2 separate regions of the Homo sapiens genome follow, and region 1 is linked to region 2. The links come from fine-mapping of genetic effects on gene expression. A gene starts in region 2. The other region holds a variant in brackets. All regions are shown on one strand. Distances are between the middles of the regions.

Evidence for each region. PIP is the estimated chance that this variant, and not a neighbour inherited with it, causes the effect.
Region 1: its variant is fine-mapped to the expression of PHF20L1 in blood mononuclear cells (TOPMed, PIP 0.97).

What each region holds. Positions count from the first base shown.
Region 1 is chr8:132,892,197-132,901,062 of GRCh38, reverse strand. TG (thyroglobulin) reads right to left here. Exons shown (of 48, transcript NM_003235.5): 11 at 7,134-7,373; 12 at 3,277-3,414; 13 at 2,817-2,894; 14 at 2,153-2,265; 15 at 724-826. Among named protein-coding and RNA genes, the nearest start is that of TG, 30 kb to the right of the region's middle. The variant A/T (reference allele first, on the strand shown) is at 4,049.
Region 2 is chr8:132,770,190-132,779,055 of GRCh38, reverse strand. PHF20L1 (PHD finger protein 20 like 1) reads right to left here and starts at 3,668. Exons shown (of 21, transcript NM_016018.5): 1 at 3,411-3,668; 2 at 1,145-1,264. The coding sequence starts at 1,227. It also overlaps a transcript of TMEM71 not described here. RefSeq lists a silencer at 3,234-3,683 and an enhancer at 3,438-3,939.

The sequences.
Region 1 (8,866 bases), 120 kb before region 2:
AATAGTGCAGTGTAGGAGCCTACAGAGGAAGAGAGAGGCCAGCAGAGGCTTCCTGGAGGGACAGATGTGTGGTCTGAGCAAGAATTTGTCAGGTGGGGAGGGGATAGACGGACATATTGCAGGTGGCACAGCCAGAACGCGTGAAGGCACAGGTGGAAGAAAGCGTCTTCCTTTTTCCAAAGTCTGACCAGAATTTATCACAACTGCACCCTGAAGCACAACTGATGGAGAAGAAAGAGAAGTCGAAGAAGACACACCAGCACCAGATGCAAAGGGCCCTCGAGCCATTCCAGGGAGCTCAAGCACGGCCCCGAAGATGATGGGAGCATTTATGGTGTTTAGGCAGAAGAGGGACATCTGCACATTGCCCTTTGGGGACATCACCTGGGCTTCACTGCGGAAACCAGACGGCAGGGCCACACATCCGGCCAGCCCTCCAAAGCCCTAGGGCCCCCTTTGATGGGGATCAATGCTGGTTTGCACTTCTCAGACACAAAGCACAGCCTACTCCCTCCCACGTTTGCTTCTCCCAAGAAACTGCAGAGATGGGGGAATATTGCCCCGATTTCATAGATGAGAAAACTGAGGCATAGTGAGGTCAGCAGCTGTGCCCCCACAGCTATGGAAGCAGTAGAGCTGGGACACGAAGCCAGCTCTTTGGACTCCACGCTCAGTGCCCCACAGAAGAGGTGAGAAGCCATGCCAGGAGGGGCTGCTACTCACACTGGGCACTGCTGCTCGAGCCAGGCCGCAACTCTTCTCCTGATGCAGGGTCCACACACCAGGTGCCAGCCCCCGATGCCTGCAGCCTGGCATACTCTCCTGTCTGAGACAAAGCCGGGGTCATGTCAGTCACTGTGGGCAAGATGCTCTAGTGGCCAACCTGCTGCTGGCAGATGTCAAAAGTGTCCCTTCCAAAACAACAGGTGATGGCTTCTCCAGACGGAGAGATGTGGAGGTGGGGAGAGGTGCTCTCCTGTTCCCAGCCCTTTACGTGCATCATTTGATTGACGGCTACAACAGCCTCATGAGGCATGGACCACAGTTCTCCCGCTTTTGGGTGGGTGAAACTGAAGATCTCTCAGAGAGGGAAAGTGGGGCAACAACTCACAGCTGGTGAGTGAGAGGCAGGTCAGGTCCAGGCCCAAACCCATCTAGACCCAAAGCCTAGCCATGCTCCTGGACCAGCCTCACTAATTCCAGAAATGATTTTGACAAGTACTAGAGTCCTCCACAGGAACTGGCCTTGCAAACCACACCTCAGAGCGCCTCTAAGCTCCACTCTGTAATCCCTTCTCCCACCATCGGACATTGTGGCTTCTACCTCTCCTTCTCTCTGTGTAAGCATCAGTGCCCAGGAAGGAGAAGCAGAATTGCATTCCAACAGTAGGTGCTTTCCAGCCAAGATTAAAAAACTAAACAATAGTGACTAATTTCTCTATGAAACTATGCTTAAGTGGGTCCATGTTTACAGTACCAAACAATAATAAGGAAACTTTTGCTTAGTACTGTACAGTTTCATGAGTTTCAACACTGCTGTTTCATCTGCTTCTCATCAAGTCTTTGGAAGCTGAGCAGAGTGGGTGGTGGTGTTCCTACCATCCTATTTTAGAAAAAGGACACTAAGCCCAGAGATTTCCCTCACTTGGCAAGTAAGTGGTTAAGTTCTGGGCATAAATTCGTTCTCTAGGAGCTCTACATCAGTACTTCGCTGAATTATGAATTGTTACAATCACCCCGGGAGCTAGGGAGGGAAAGAAGCTGGTGTCCTCTGTGTGTGTTGAGAACCTGGGACACTGTAAGCATAGGGCCTTGGCCAAGATGCCTTTAGGAAAAACATGATAGCATGTTTTGTTTATTTTTCAAAGAGTTCTTATGAAAGATATTTTCTTGGAGTCTCAAAACAAACCTAGCATTAGCTAGGACAAAATGTGGCCTGATCTTATGATTAAACAAAACAAACTGGGACACAGAAAAGGTAAGTAAATAGCCCAAGGTCACAGAACCAGGTTCTAGCAGGCCCAGACAAACACCCAGGCTGAGAACATCATGTGAGCTTTTAACTAAGCTGAACGTATTGAACAAAAAGAAAAATCATCTCTGACCAGCGGGGACAAGTCCCGGCTCCAATCCTGTGCTTCCAGACCCTTACTTCTAGGCAGGCTGGGACGAACAGGTCTTTTGGAGATGGGTTTTCTTGGGATCTAGCCTGTTTCCAACTGGAAAGCAGCCCACTGGTTCGAGATTTCTCGCAGGTTGTCGGGCCTGTGGGAGAGAGAGGTGCTTGTAAAGGACTGGTCGTGGGAGCCAAGAGAAAGAGGGGATCCCAGGCTGACCCCACCTTTAAGGGTCATGAGCCTGGGTGAATGCAGGTGCTCTTCATAGAGAGGTAGAATCTCTGAGGACAAAGACTCATGTGGGACATGCCAGCTTTGAGATGTCAAGTGGACTGTGGATTACACATGGCTGAGCCTCAGAAGAGGGGTTGGGGCTGCAGGTTCAGAGGCGAGGCGGTTGCTGAAACTACAGGAGTGGCTGAAATTGCCCAGCAGATGTACAGAGGGGGAGAACCAGGGCTCCTTCAACAGTCTCAGCTGTTTCCTTCCACCTGCAAAGCTGGGAGCCTTCCAACTAGGAAGTGCCAAGGTCAGCGCAAGCTTGCAGGCCTGGGGACTTGGGAAATGCGTCTGGCTGCACCCGGGACCTGGCTGAAGGGCTGGGCCATGGAGTCTCCAGCGGTTAGGCAACCACAGCTGACTAGACCAGTGATGCCCACCAAGGGGGGTCAGGAGGAGAACTCTGCAGTCTTCACTTACACTGTGGAATCTGCAGAGAGCGGGCAGTCAGTGAGCCAGGGATGAACCCTCCTTTCTCATCTACACACCAGCAGTGCCCTGGAAAAGAGCCAAGGGGAGAACATTCAGGAATTGCACTAGGGACTTACCCTGGAGTGTCCCATAAACAACTTTCCTTCTTCACTCATAGCAGTGCAAGCCTGGTCGCCTTCTGTCCCCAGTCTAGACCCCCAGCCGGACATTGTCCACAATCACTCTGATGCCCCCAGCAACCACCCACTTGTCTTTCAGGCTGGTAGAAGTTTCCTGCTCCTGTTACACAAGTGAGATAACTGGAGGCCCGAGAAGCTAAGGAATTTTTCACCAGCTGCTAAAGAGGAGCCTAAGAGTCCAGCTCACTTGCCTCCCAGTGTGGGGCTCTGTCCTCTAAAATAAAAAAGGGGTGTCACTTGGCCACCTGAAGGTGCCTATCCCTCCTTACCAGTCCCAGCGTGGCACTGCACAGGCTCCCAACTTCCAAACGCATCACACTGTGGCATGTAGGGGCCCGACCGCAGAAGGGCGGATGCTCCAGCCGAGTCGTCCGGGGAAAAGCGGCGTCTCTGATAGAAGCTTAAGGCTGGAGTCAGGGAAGGAGAAAAGCAGAATATGACCACCTGCTCTGTGTGGGCTCTGTAGCTGAGAACAACCACGTATGTCCTGGTTCCAACATAAGGAGGCCTTCTTATTTATTTATTTGACAAACATTTCAACCCACAGTATTACAAAGGCTCCTTGCACAGTAGGCAGGCACTCAACAGATTGTCCTTTAAGAATAACACTTAGGCTGAAGCTTGAAAGAATATTATAGTAGACCTCTACAATAACTTCCATACAGAAATCAGTAGGTCAGTGAAGTGTCTTCAGGCACATGAGATAATAGTAATAATAGGTAGGCTCTATACTCATATGTTATGTGTGAGGCACTAGCTAAATACATACCTTAATTAATTTAATCCTCACAGCAATCTGAAGAAATGTCATGTTATCCCATTTAATGGATGAGAAAACTGAGACACAGATGGATTAAGCAACTTAACCAAGGGTTCACAGACAGAAAGAAGAGAGGTTGGCCTTGGAACACAGGAGGGCGATTGACATCAGCTGCCCTCGTAGGTTTCCCTACCAAACTCCTACAGTTTAGTTTTTAACCCCTTTGAAACTTGGATATCCACAAAAATCATATCAGATCTTCACAGCAGCTCCATGAAGCC[A/T]GAACTTTTACCCCAGGTGAGGACACAGAGGCTCAGCGAGGGAGGTTATATGATGAACCACTGGCCACCCCACTAATGAAACTGCATCTGTCCTCAGCTCTTGCAGTCCCCGACCCACTGGGCTTTGCACATGGCTTTCCCCACCACCAACATAGTACATAGTGTTCCCATTTATTGTGTTAGATTTGTCTCCTCCGCACTAGCATTTAAGCTCTTTGGTGCAGAGATTTGTGTTTATTTTGCATGTAGAGGAGTGTCTGGCTCATAGTAGGCACTCAAGAAATCACCGATTGGGAAAAAAGCGTGAATGAATGCATGAGGGGGAGAGGAAGAAGCAAGGGTGGGCAGCGGGTGGGACACACATCAGTTTGGTGTGGGTCTTACCAGGCCCAGTCTGATTTGCCACAACCACCACCCTCCTCCTAAGTGGCCATGAACTGTCGCCTGAGCTCTTTCTCCACTCCTGCTGGCACTTGGGGCAGGTTGGGGCTCCTCACCAGGATCCTGGAGGGAGAACGGGAATATCTGTGGCAGCACCATTGGCAGTCACCTGCAGTTCATTGGGACAGTTCTCCCCACTCCCCACCTTTCAGAAACAGGCTTCATGGCTCCAGACGAGAGAGCTTGCAGATACAAGGATGCCACCAACTCACAGTCAGAGCCCATCTGGGGACACCAGGACCGACCTCTGAAGCAGCCCCATACAGTGGACAGCGTTCTGGAGTCTGCCAGGCCTCCTTCTGAATCCCGGCACTGCGCCTCCTAACTGTGATCATGAGCAAGTTGCCCAACCTCTCTGAGCTTCAGTTTCCTCATCTATGGAATGGGTCTAACACTCACCTAACAAGACAACTGTGATATTTACATCAAAGGAGCTGATAGGTGTTAAACACCAAGTGCTTGCCAGACACAGCGGTGTGCATTTCCTCCCATGGCCTTCGCCACGCTCATTAGGCCCTCAGACATGGCTACCATGTTCTAGTGGCCAAAGGCACTTCGCTCTGGGCCCTCAATCCCCAGACTCTCAGGGAAAAGACCAGGCCTGGTCCTCTATGGTCCCTTCCTCTTTCCTCTACAAGCTCAGACATGCAAAGCGGAGCATGTGGCTACTTGGAGAGGAACTTCTCAGCTCGACTTCTGAAGAAAATGCCAACATGCCATTCAATGACTAATCTCAACAGCACCAGCAACATTGCCTCCCCTTTCTCGACATTTCCCTCCCTGACCAAAGTGGTCACAACTGAAGGAGCACCAATCCCACTTCTCTCTTTGATTACCTCAAATCCTGTCTTTGTACAAAAATGTAAAACAACATGGTTCTTCCCAAAAGCAGAAGTCTCCCAGTCTCTGAGGAACAGAGAAAAGCAGTGCCTAGGCATAGGGTGAGGGTAGTGGACGGAAGAGAGAGAAAGAAGGGAGGAAGAAAGCAATAAGGATGGTTAACCACCAGCTACTCAGCTCCTTGTAGGTGTCAGGCACTGTGCCACGCACCAGGGATATAGAAAGAATAAGACACAGTGCCTTGTTCTCCAAAAGAGATGTCTGGTGTGAGAGAGAAGCAGGAAACAAAGATGGCACACATGAGATTGTCACGTGGTATTAGGAGAACAAAGATCACTGAGACCCAATCCCACGCTGGCCATAGACACCCTGGAGTGCCTGCTGGCGTGGATGGGAAGGCAGGGAGCTGCCCTCCTGCTGGAGGGATTCTCTTTGACTTGGAGCAGATGTTGTCAGGGGAGGACTGTCTTGCTGTTTGGTGACTCAAGCCTAGAAAGCTAGACAGGGAATCAGCTGAGACCATTTGACAGGGATGGGGATCCTGAGTAAGATTCAAAGACAGATTAATCATTTGTCCTTGTCAAGTTGATGTGGGGTCAGTGAGAAATCTTGGAAGGGACCTGTTCTCCTGCCAGAGCAGCTGTGAGGTTATGGAGGAAGAACAAGGGCTCTAGGATGAGGCAGAGCTAGGCACTGACCTCAGCAATACCTGGAATCTGCCTGGCAGGGAACAGGAGAGATGAACTGGAGGACCAGGTCTCTGGGCTTCCCATCCAGGCCCACTGGTTATCACTTGTGTGAATTCGGGCAAGTGACTTAACCTCAGACTCCATTTCCCCATTTGCAAAGAATTGTGGATGGTGATTATACCATCATTCTCCTGGAGCTGTCAGAGGATTAAATGTGAAGATCTGATAATCTACTTAGCACAGTAAGTGCCTGCTCAAAGGTGAAGTTAGAATATTGTTTAGCTGGTTAAGGGCTGTGACTCATGCCTGTAATCCTGGCACTTTGGGAGGCCGAGGCAGACAGATCACTTGAAGTCACGGGTTCGAGACCAGCCTGGCCAACATGGTGAAATCCTGTTTCTACTAAAAATGTGCAAATATTAGCTGCATGTGGTGGCACACACCTGTAGTCCCAGCTACTCAGGTGGCTGAGGTGGGAGGATTGCTTGAGCCCAGGAGTTCGAGGCTGTGGTGAGCTATGATTGTGCCACTGCACCCCAGCCTGGGTGACAGAGCAAGACTCCGTCTCAAAAAAAAAAAAAAAGCATACTGTTCAGCTGTTATTATAGACCAGAGGACTGCAGGCTCCCTGAGCTTATGCCTCTGTCGCATGCAGGTAGTAATTCCTGCTTTTTGGAGTTACTCTCAGGATCAGATGAGATCAATGTGTCATAGTTACTTAATATCGAGGCTTCCTCTCCCCTCCTGCTGTGTGGTGTTCCTGAATCCCTGGAAATGGAGGGAAGCTTTGGAGCAGGCCGTAAGGGGTGTTTGAGCATTCACGGGCTTGGGTCCCTCGCATTTTAACAAGAATATTGGCTTTGTGGGAGCGGCAGGTGCCATCTGAAACCTGCCCTAGGGTAGATTCGCTGGAGAATTAAGGAGCATTTTAGAGATGCGTGCAGCATTCCAGCTTTGACTGGTGCCCCCAAACCACTTTGCCTTTTCCTTCCCAAGAACCCATCAGTCTGGGGAAGCCAAACCACAAAGTCCTAAGGATGACTGAGGAGAGACGAATTTAAGCTCCTGCTTTTCCAAAGCGATGCAGTAAGAAAGCTGAAGGGCACCACACTCACTAGACTGAGCCGCCAGGCGAATGGCGTAATCACTCCCACGCAGAAACTGCTCCGCGAAAGCCTCCCGGGGCGGGAAGAGCGGAGGAAGGCCGAGGTCCTCATTCCTCAGCCGGATTCCCTTGGCCACCAGGAAACTCTCCCCCAGAGGGAACCGAGAACTGTTGGAAGCTGAAACAATCTCTTCCGTTTCCCTAATGAACTGCAGTACACGGAGCTTTGCTTCCTCACAGGAGCCAGGACCTAGGGGAATAAAAATAACACAGATGGACTCACTCACCACGTGGACTTCCCTCTGACTCCCATGAAGCATGTGTGCCCTCACGCACACACATACACACCACACACACACCACACACACACACCACACACATACACACCACCCCCCTACACCACACACATACACACCACCCCCTCACACACACTGATACACACCACACACACACCACACCACACACATACACACCACCCCCCATACTACACACATACACACCACACACCACACACATACACACACCACACCACACACATACACACCACCCCCCCACACTACACACATATACACCACAGACACACCACACACACCTATACACACCATACACACAGTATGCACATACAGATCACATACACCACACGTACACATACACACACACCACCCCCGCAGACACCACACACATACACACCACACACATACACACACACCACATATACACACCACACACACATACACACCACACACACTCACATACACACCACACACACACCACACTCACCACACATACACACAAATACACACCACACACACACCCTCCACACATATACCACACACATACATGAACACCACACACATACACCACCCACACACATACACACACCACTCAAGACACATCACATACCATACACACATACCACACACACACACACCACCCACATACACACCATACACACAACCACACACATACACACCACACAGTACACACACATGCATACACACATCACACACAGTACACACACACCACACCACACACACATGCACACAGGCATACCACACACACATGCACACACGCATACCACACACACATACACCACACCACACACATACACACACACCACACACATAAACACACACACCACACTCATACACATACACACACACCTATGCACATACCACACACATAAGTGCACACACCATACACCCATATAGAAATACACAAACCCCATAAACACACACCACACACACATACATAAACACCCACCACAGCACACACATACACACACTACACAATACACACCCACACGTGAGCACATTTTTGCCTCAGCTGTTTTCTTCGCAGCAGCTCTTTCCACAACCTGGAATGTTCCTTGTTTTGCCTCCACACTCCCATTCAGTCACCATTTGTGGAGGAACCACTGCATAAGATGAGTAATAGCTCATACTCGCTCCATGCTGGGCATCATCCTGAGCACATCTACGCAGACAATCTAATTGATGCAACAGCCCAATAAAATATTCTTATTCTCATGCTACAGATGAGAAACTGAGGCATGGAGAAGTCATATAATTTAAACGAGTTCCCAGCTAGCAAGCAGCTGATTCAGAATTTCAATCTAGACAGTCTCACTCTGGGAATAGTGATCTTGACTAGCTGTCTCTAATGAAGGATAGGCAGATGATGGATGGATGGATGCATGGATAGATGGTTGGATGGATGGATGGATATCAAAAGTTGAAGGGA
Region 2 (8,866 bases):
AGAGAAACCCCAGCCTGGTCTATACAGTCAAATATTATGACTAAACAAGATTTCTCTGCCTGCCATTGCCAACTCGGGAAGTTGACTTAATACAAATCAATCAAAAGTAAATCTACAAAATGCCCAGTATGGTTTTAAATCAGAGAAAATGTCAAAAAGTCTGGGAAAGTCCAAGAGCTGCTAAACAAGAACTCGCATCAAAATAAACGGGCTTCAGGAGGAGCAAAGGCAGCATCCCTCCCAGAAGCGGAACCCCTCTAATGCCCCTCTCAGGTTAGGAGCCTGCAAATGGCAACAAAAGACATCTGCCAAGACAGCAGAATGAGGGGCCAGTTAACCCAAATGAGGAATACGCTCCTTAGGAGAAAGGAGAATCCTCCTCATTCCTACTCTGGCCCAGGGACCCCTGCATGTAGCTTCCCCTTCTCTCCTTTCCAGATAGTAGTTTTATACCAATTCATCAACTTTTCCTAACCACTGTATAAAGGCTATGTTGGGAGGTGTTTAAATTTACCACTTACCACAATGGCCAGAATAGGGGGAGACACACAAGTTCTGAAAGGACAGCCTATTTTGCACTGGAGACAGTAACAACCTGCCTTTAGGTTAAGGCCCACCAGGGAAAATAGGAGGTTAAGTGTGATTTTGGTTTTAGGTGAGATAATGAATAGTGGAGATGTTTTTGAAAGTGTTCACTATGAAAAAATGCTATGCTAACCATTAATATACTCTGTAGTTTGAAAGACTACCACTGACAGACCAAAAATACCAATTTAAATCAAAATTTATCCAAAACATGAGAAGTTGGTTCTCTGGATTACTCCTCTCTCTACTTCCACCAATACAGCTCATGTGAGGTATACATGAGGTATACATAAACCGCATACTCTAGACAATTATTTTCATTTCTCAAACACCAAAAATGATTGTTCTAAATAATTTAGTCAGTTGACTAAAAATAGTTTTTAAATGCTAAACCTAAAAAGCCTAAAGAGTAGGAAAACTAAAAAACAACATATATGTGTAATCGAAATGTGAATACACTGATGTTTCTGCTACCATCAGTGGAATTTACTGTTTTAATTAACATATGTAAGGCTACAGATATTGTGATATTTAGGTGAAAGTTCTATATTTTCCATACCATTTTTGTAAGTAGTCCAGTGCCTCCAAACGAGCACCAATCTCAAAAGTGATTCCAGGGCGATTTGGGGGCTTTTTACTCATCTTGAGATCCTATTCTTCAGTATTCTCTTTTCACTACCTCAAGAGAAAGAAAAAAGTTAGATTCCAATGCAGAAAATGCATAGGAAGTAGAGTATAAGGGAACAGGTCAAATTAAAATTAAACAGAATTTCTAAAACAATACATGAGAATATGAAATACTTGCCAAATTGTTAAGAAATTTGAAGGAGTATTACCAACATCTCTATATAAAGTTCTGTGCAATCTGCAGGCAATCTTGATAATGATTTAAGAAAAAGAACAAAGAAAACTATCTAAAAAGAATGAGTAAATGGACTGTTAAAAATTGTTAATAGCTAAAAATGCTTTACATTTGAGCTTCCAGATACCCAAGAAAATTCTCCACGGGGAGAGCTGAAAATGCTTTCCTGCCTTTGAAAAATTAAGACAGCTGAGTGTTCTGGAATAGGACTACTGAAATTCTTGAGAACAAAATCAATTTTTAATTTCAACAAATATTTGTTGAGTGCCTCATAATACAAAACACTAGATAAGGCCCTACAGCACACAAAGATGGAGGAAACAGTAGGCACACTCCTCTGCCAGTGAAGATACCACTAATTCCTCTTGGGATTAGGATTTTTCATTACCCATGATCTCCCACCTTGGTAGCACATAATTCAATAATTTTAATTTAACATACAGTATTACAAAAGAGACTGCTTTCTTATACTTTACATTCAACAAGCAATAATAACATGCTTTTGTTAACTGAGTATTTCTACTATATTTCAATTTAGACAGTGTCCACATTGATAATAAAAGTGGTTGTAATGCTAGAACAAAAACTGCAAAGGAGTACCTATGTATCCCTAGGTCATTCACATGCAAAGTACTATATTTTGGGCCACAGTGGCCACCGAGCACACTTGAGGTGGCCTCTTTTTCACTAATGGGTATGTGAGGAATATGAATACATTTTGAGATAACCTAATCAAAACATAACTCATAATTAAGAATGTAAATTGATTGTTATCAGGGGCGAGGAGAGATCCGTAAAATGTCTTTCGGTATTTGAGATCACTAATGACTATGTTCCCTACAGTTTAAAAAGAAAAAAAGAAACACACACACTTGTCATCTTTTATAATGGTTTTGTCACAATTCATAATAGACAAAATAGAACAACAAACATAAAATTCCAACTGCTCCCTCTTTTCTCTTTGAAAGAGTCTGATAGGTAAGGGAAAAAATAGCATCAATACTGGCCATGAAAATATGCGAACTCAAATACCCATGGTTGGAGGGGGAGAGTGGGTATCCTCCTGCTATGGTATAAGCAAATATTAGAGCATTAAAAAGTTAACAGGGAGCTTGCCCAGGGTGTAGCTGGTGCAAAAGAACAAATGTATGAATATTTTTAATAGAGGTCTTGTCAGTGCGCAACACGTAAGGCAGTTACTTAAATGTTTGTGTAGAAATCGAATCAACCTTTTCTGCTGTCTGTCACAGGAAGAATTCAGTAAGGGATAGTTCACAAGGTACACTAACATCTAGAATCAAACTTAGAGCCCATAATTAAGTGATGGATTGAATGAGTATAATCCCCCAGTGACACTTAGGGATGAAGTACCAGAAAAAAAACAAGATTTTCCTTTGTCTTAGGTTCGAAGAGGGAAGGATGAAGAGGGATTTGAATTAAGGAACTTTCATAAAGTAAGACAGTCTACTGGGAGTAAAACTTGAAGCAAAAACAAGGCAGAAAGCACGGAGAGGAGTAAAAACAGTAAGGAAAGGAGCAAAGAATGGCAAGAAATAGGACAGTGGAAGTTTTCGGAGATGACAAGTTAGAGGGAAGAAGAAATGAGCAAGAAGACATAGAGACCGACAATGTAAAGCAATGGTCAGAGAATGACCGCCAGGCCAAAAAAGGTGAGGAGGTGAGGCCAGACAGAGAGGGGGTGGCACGAGACAGGCAGGAAAGGCTGACAGGGCTGGCAGGGAGCTGGAGAAGCCTCCAGGTTTGACAGCCATCCGGCCCTCCGCAGGGGGGTAAGGAAGGGAGGGGAAGAGGGAGCTGCGGCGCCCAGACAATAGGGCCGGCGAGTTACGGGGAGGGAGGCGGGAGGGGAGCGGGCCGGAAAGAGAGACACCAGAATGGGGGCGTCCCGGGCGGCCCGGCGGGGGCCAGGCGGCCTGCCGGCTCAGCCGCCGCCGCCTCTTACCGACTCGGCCTCCTCTCTGCACAGCAGCCGGGCCGTCCGGGGCCGAGCTGGGGCACGAGCAGGGCGGCCAGCCCGGGCCTCTGCCTCTGCCTCCGCCCAGGCAGCGGCCGGGGAGGGAGCAGGAGCGGAGCGAGCTGGGGCCGCAGCGCCGGATCCGCCCAAGGTTTCGCGGGAGGGAGCTGGGTCCGAGCCCTCAAGCTCGCTCAGGGTCCGCTGCCATCGCCGCCGCCGCCGCCGCCTCCGCCGCCGGCCAGCCCTGACGCGACGCCGGGCCCCGGCGACGTCAGCCGCCCGCGACGTGCCGGAAGCGGGCCTGGCCTTGTCACGTGACTCACGAGGGTTGGGCCCGGGCCGCGCAGCCGATTGGCGGGCCGCCGTAGGAGGCGGGGCTTTGCGGTCGTTGACGGACCGCTAGCGGGCGGGGCTCTGGTTACTGGAGGAAAGAACGCGAGCTCTTGGTGCCTATTGGTAGTTGTGAAGTATTTGACCTTTGAGATTTGAGGACGAAGGGCATTGTTTATTATTCTTGATTCGTTGGGAACCACGTCACCAAAACCCCTTTACCCAGGACCCTTGGCAAACTTTTTCAAATGCATTACATGCTTTCTTAGATATCCATCCCACTCCACATCAAGAATAGAGCATGGTTACTACTACAAAATCAATAAACCTCCCTTGAATGGATGCTTTGTGATAGACACTAGGCTGTAAATATGTCACATGACAATCACAACTGTACAACTGTATTACAATTGTATTGCTTTCCAGTCTTGGAGATCTTTACAATACAAAGACGAATATTACTAAGATGTGTGTACGCGCGTGCTCAGGCACAGCTGAATAACCTTAACCTATGGCTACATTGATATCACTTCCCCAAGACTACACAGCTAATGATAGCAGAACTGCTTTTATCGAATACCTACCCTCCCAAACTTTACTAAGCACAGGAGACAGTATCCTTGCTGTGGGGAGAAACCAATAAGTGAACACATTGAAAATAATATTGAAATGAAACATCTTTTTTCTCTTGGTTTCCACTGTACCACTCTGGTTTTCAAGTGCAACGTTGCATACAAATGTCACTTATATTTATCTTGCTTCATAGTGTGGAGTTAAAATAGCAAAGTAACTCTCTTTAAGCTTCAGTTATAGTAAGATTTGGTAAATTAAACAATCATTCTTTTTTTATTCAACAAACATTCATTCAGCATCTACTAAGTCACTAATAGCTACTGAGCTAGACTGAGCATGGTGATACATAGAAAAGATATAAATAAGACAGTCTCTAGTGGATATTTGTTATAGAAAAGATATAAATAAGACAGTCTCTAGTGGATATTTGTTATCTTGTTTTTTGGTTGCCCAGCATCTCAACTCTCTTTCCATGTTTGAGAAATTTCTCATCATGGTTGCATTAGTTCAGAACACCAAATACTTGTAGCATCTTCCTTAGGACATGACAGGATTATACTTTCCACCCTCCTTAGAATTATGTATGGCTATTTGATTTGCTTTGGCTGATAAAATGTAATTAGAAGTGAGATTTGTCATGGCCAGTTGGTAATTTTTAATGCCAGCTCACCAAAGTTTCTGTCTCTGGCACAGTGTAAAGCACTGCTTGAGATGATAGCTGCTCTACCATCCAGGTTCTAGACAGATTATGATGAACCAAGGCCTCACTGATAATCTACAACTACTGTGTTGTATAAGGAAAAAAATAAATATTTATTATTTTAACTATGGAGATTTGGGTGCTGGATTGTTTGTTACATGGCATAATCCTACCCAAACTAAATGATACATCCACCTTATGAATCTTGGATGCAGAATCAACCTCCCACTAAATAAGATGAAAATATCAGAAACTCATGTTTCCAGTCTCCCTTGCAGCTAAAGTTCTAGCCTCAAGTAAAACTCTTTTACCAAGGACTTTGTATCAGAAGTTGCTAATGATGTTCAAAATAAGGAAACTTTTCTCCCACATCTGTGGCAGTACCAGTATTCAAGTTTCTGATGGTCAGCCTGGAGTTAAATCTTTCTGAACTCTGGCAGAACCCCTGCTGAATCACAAGCTAGTGACTGAGAAAAAATAAATATCTATTATTATACACCACTAAAAACTTGAGGTTATTTGCAATTTAAATAAAATACATACATAAAGAACAACAGATTCTGTCCATTCTCCCAACTATTTGTTGAGAATCCACCCTGGAAAGATGATTGTTCCATTTTAATTGGAACTTGACAATGGGTCTTCCAATAATGACACTTGAAAGAAAAAAATAAAATAAGGTCTTATGTAAATGATCCCTAGCTTCAGTGAATTGTATAGGCTTAGTAATCCTCTGTGGAGTTAATACCGTCCCCTAGAGGGCACTTTGGAAATGGAGGATGGTATTTTATTGTCTCAGGATTGGGGTAGGGCACTGCTACTATTTAGTGGGAAGGGACCAGGGCTGCTAGATATCCTGAAATGCACAGTGCAGTTCCATACCTTGAAGAATTGCCCCAGGTCATGCATGACTTCTAGATGTCCTTCCAGACATTCATGTAGGTGAAAAACCTGTTTATAATTGTCCCTGCCTAGAACTGCATTTCACATATAAGTATTTTTGGAAGGTTTTAATATACATTAAATTTTACAGGAATGAAGCAACTGTGTAATGTAAGGAAACACTGACCTTTTTTCTGAACATTATCAAGAGTCTATCTCATTTTAAAATATCATGCCACCAACGGCTAATTACTCATAGTATTTGAGGCACTGATAGAATGCACCTGTGTCAGTCTAGTTGCGTAGCTGTTACATTTAGGGAAATCTAAATTTAGATACAAGCACCTCACTACTTCATTATATATTTCTGTGATACATGGATGAATGTTAAGTATTGAAATATATATGATTTTTATGAATTATTTTCATAAATTTTTTATATTATCATAGTCATATTGATTTTTAAGTATATATGTATAGCTTGGTTATGTTATTTATGAAGTTAATTTTGGGAAGTGGAGAGGGTGTGAATATAATATTGACTCTAAAAGGAAGGCACTAAGCCTGATAAAACTGACAAAAAATTCAGGTAGGATGTCATTTCCTCTTTTAACCACATAGAGTCAAAGGTCAGGATCAGAGTAGGGATACAGGATATACAAAATTCTAGTACTGACTCCCTGGCCATGTAGTGAAGCCGTGCATTGATCTGTCCCTTCTCCTCTCTTCCACCCAGCACACCCTGTTCCAGATGGTTGATGCCCAGCCATCAGTCACTCCATCTCCAAATATAGAAAGAAAGAACTTACAGCTGTGTTTGAGCAGAACCAAACAAGCAGTGAGCAAATTATCTTGAAACAACAGTTGTTAGGCAGAAATCACTGAACTAAATTCCTCCAACATTAAAAATATGAATATGGAACCATAATGTCTCCTGGAATATTTAACAAATGTATACCTATTTTAAGGTAGGAAAAAAAGTTACTACTAAATACCAGATACTCCTTGATTACAAATAAAACACAAGATAGCTATTTTTTGTGTGTTTACTTAATATTTACAATTAGCATTAGTAAAGAAAATCAAAGCAGTTCAAGTTTTTTTTAAGGTTAGTTTAGCAGAAACGTAAACTACTGTGATAGCCTCTGTCAAATCTCTTCATTCCATGTGCATAAAAATCTTTGAAAATAGCACTGACATCATTTTCCTCACCTGCCAAAGAGCTCACTTATCTTTCCTCTGTCACCATATCCCTTTATCAACTGAACAGAAATTATAGTTATTCCAGAATTAATCCCTGGCAATAGGAGCTCTAGGCCATGTATGAATTGGCAGAGATGTCATCTCTCCCAGTGTTCCCGCAGCATTTTTTTCACCTCTCTAATGTATTCCTCACTGTGATTCGTAGGTTTATATTCCACTTTCTTAGAATGAGCCAACTCTAAGGATGATAGGGTGTTCCAGATTACTTTAAACATACTTATATATACAAATAAAATAAAGAAATATGATGTTATTAAAGTAAATAATAATACATATATATTATAAATACAAAGTACATAATATTGAAGTAATATATATTACTTTGATATATATGTATATATGTAAGTTTATGTGTTACTCAGTTTACATGTTACTCAGAGCCACATGGATCTCTGAGATTTTTAAAACTTTTAGGCTTGGCAATAATGATTCTAAGATATCAAAGTCTCTGCTACTAAGGGTCATAAAATAGAAAAAATATGTATGTCTATTTCAGCAAATGCAGCAAGAGAGACAAAGAACTCTTTTGTGTGTGTGCAGATTACCATGAAGCAAGAGAGTGAACAGAAAATTTATCATCCAACCCTGAACACTTTTGAGAATGGAAGGAAGGGCTATTAATAATTATACCAGAATGACAGGTGGATCCTGGACAGTTCCAGACAAACGGAGATATCTGGTCATGACACATAAAGCAGGAAGAAATAATCATGAGAAATTAGTAAAGATTTTATAAATAGAAGTACATTGAATATGGAATCCACTCGTGATACTGCAAAGGATTTTCACATTTCTGATTTAGGACAAAGGATGGTCTCTGCTTCCTGCTGCTATGTGATACTTTGCACCTCTCCTGATTTTTATCATTGTTAACTAGTGTCTCTTGCATTAACTATATCAGTATTTCTCAAGCTTTGGTCTGCCAATTATCTGCATTATGGAGATGTGCATATGGCTCAGGGGCACTGTTTTAACAAGATGGTCTGTTAAAATGCAACACTGTTTGATAAAATTCAAGTTCCTGGGCCCTGATTTATATCTTAGGTTTGGGGACTGGAAATCTGCATTTTAGCAAGCTACCCTAAACAATTCATACGTACATGAAATATTCAGACCCGCAGTGTGTGAGGATTCTTTTTGTCGCATGTAACAGAAAATTTTATGAAAACAGGCTTAAGCAAAAAGGGAATTTTTCAGTTTGGGGAGTTAATAGAAGATAAGGAATAAGTCTGCCTTCTGTGTGAGTTTGATTCAGTGAAAAATTATAACATCTTTCACTCTACTTCTTAAGGTTTAGCTTGATTCTGGGGATCCCCAACAGCTTAAGACATTACAGCATCCTGGCGACCGTAAAAACAAATACTAGGAGTCTTTCTCTCACTGGCTGAGATAAAGTTAGGTGCCTAAATCTGAACCAAGTATGGTGGCCATGGGGATGACTTGTACTGATTCGGCTTAAACTGGGTTCCTATTCCTATCAGGCAGGTAAGCGTGAAGACTGGTCCAAACCTCGTGGACTGAGCGATGGGAATGAGTGGGTTCTTTAATGCAAAATTCGAGTGCTGTTACTTAAAAGAAAGAGACTGGAATTTGGACAACAAAATAACTAATATTCAACACAACTGTAACTCCAAATTACAATTTACAGCCATTCAACAAAGCTGAGAATTCTCTTCCTAGCTTGCAAAGTTAGAAA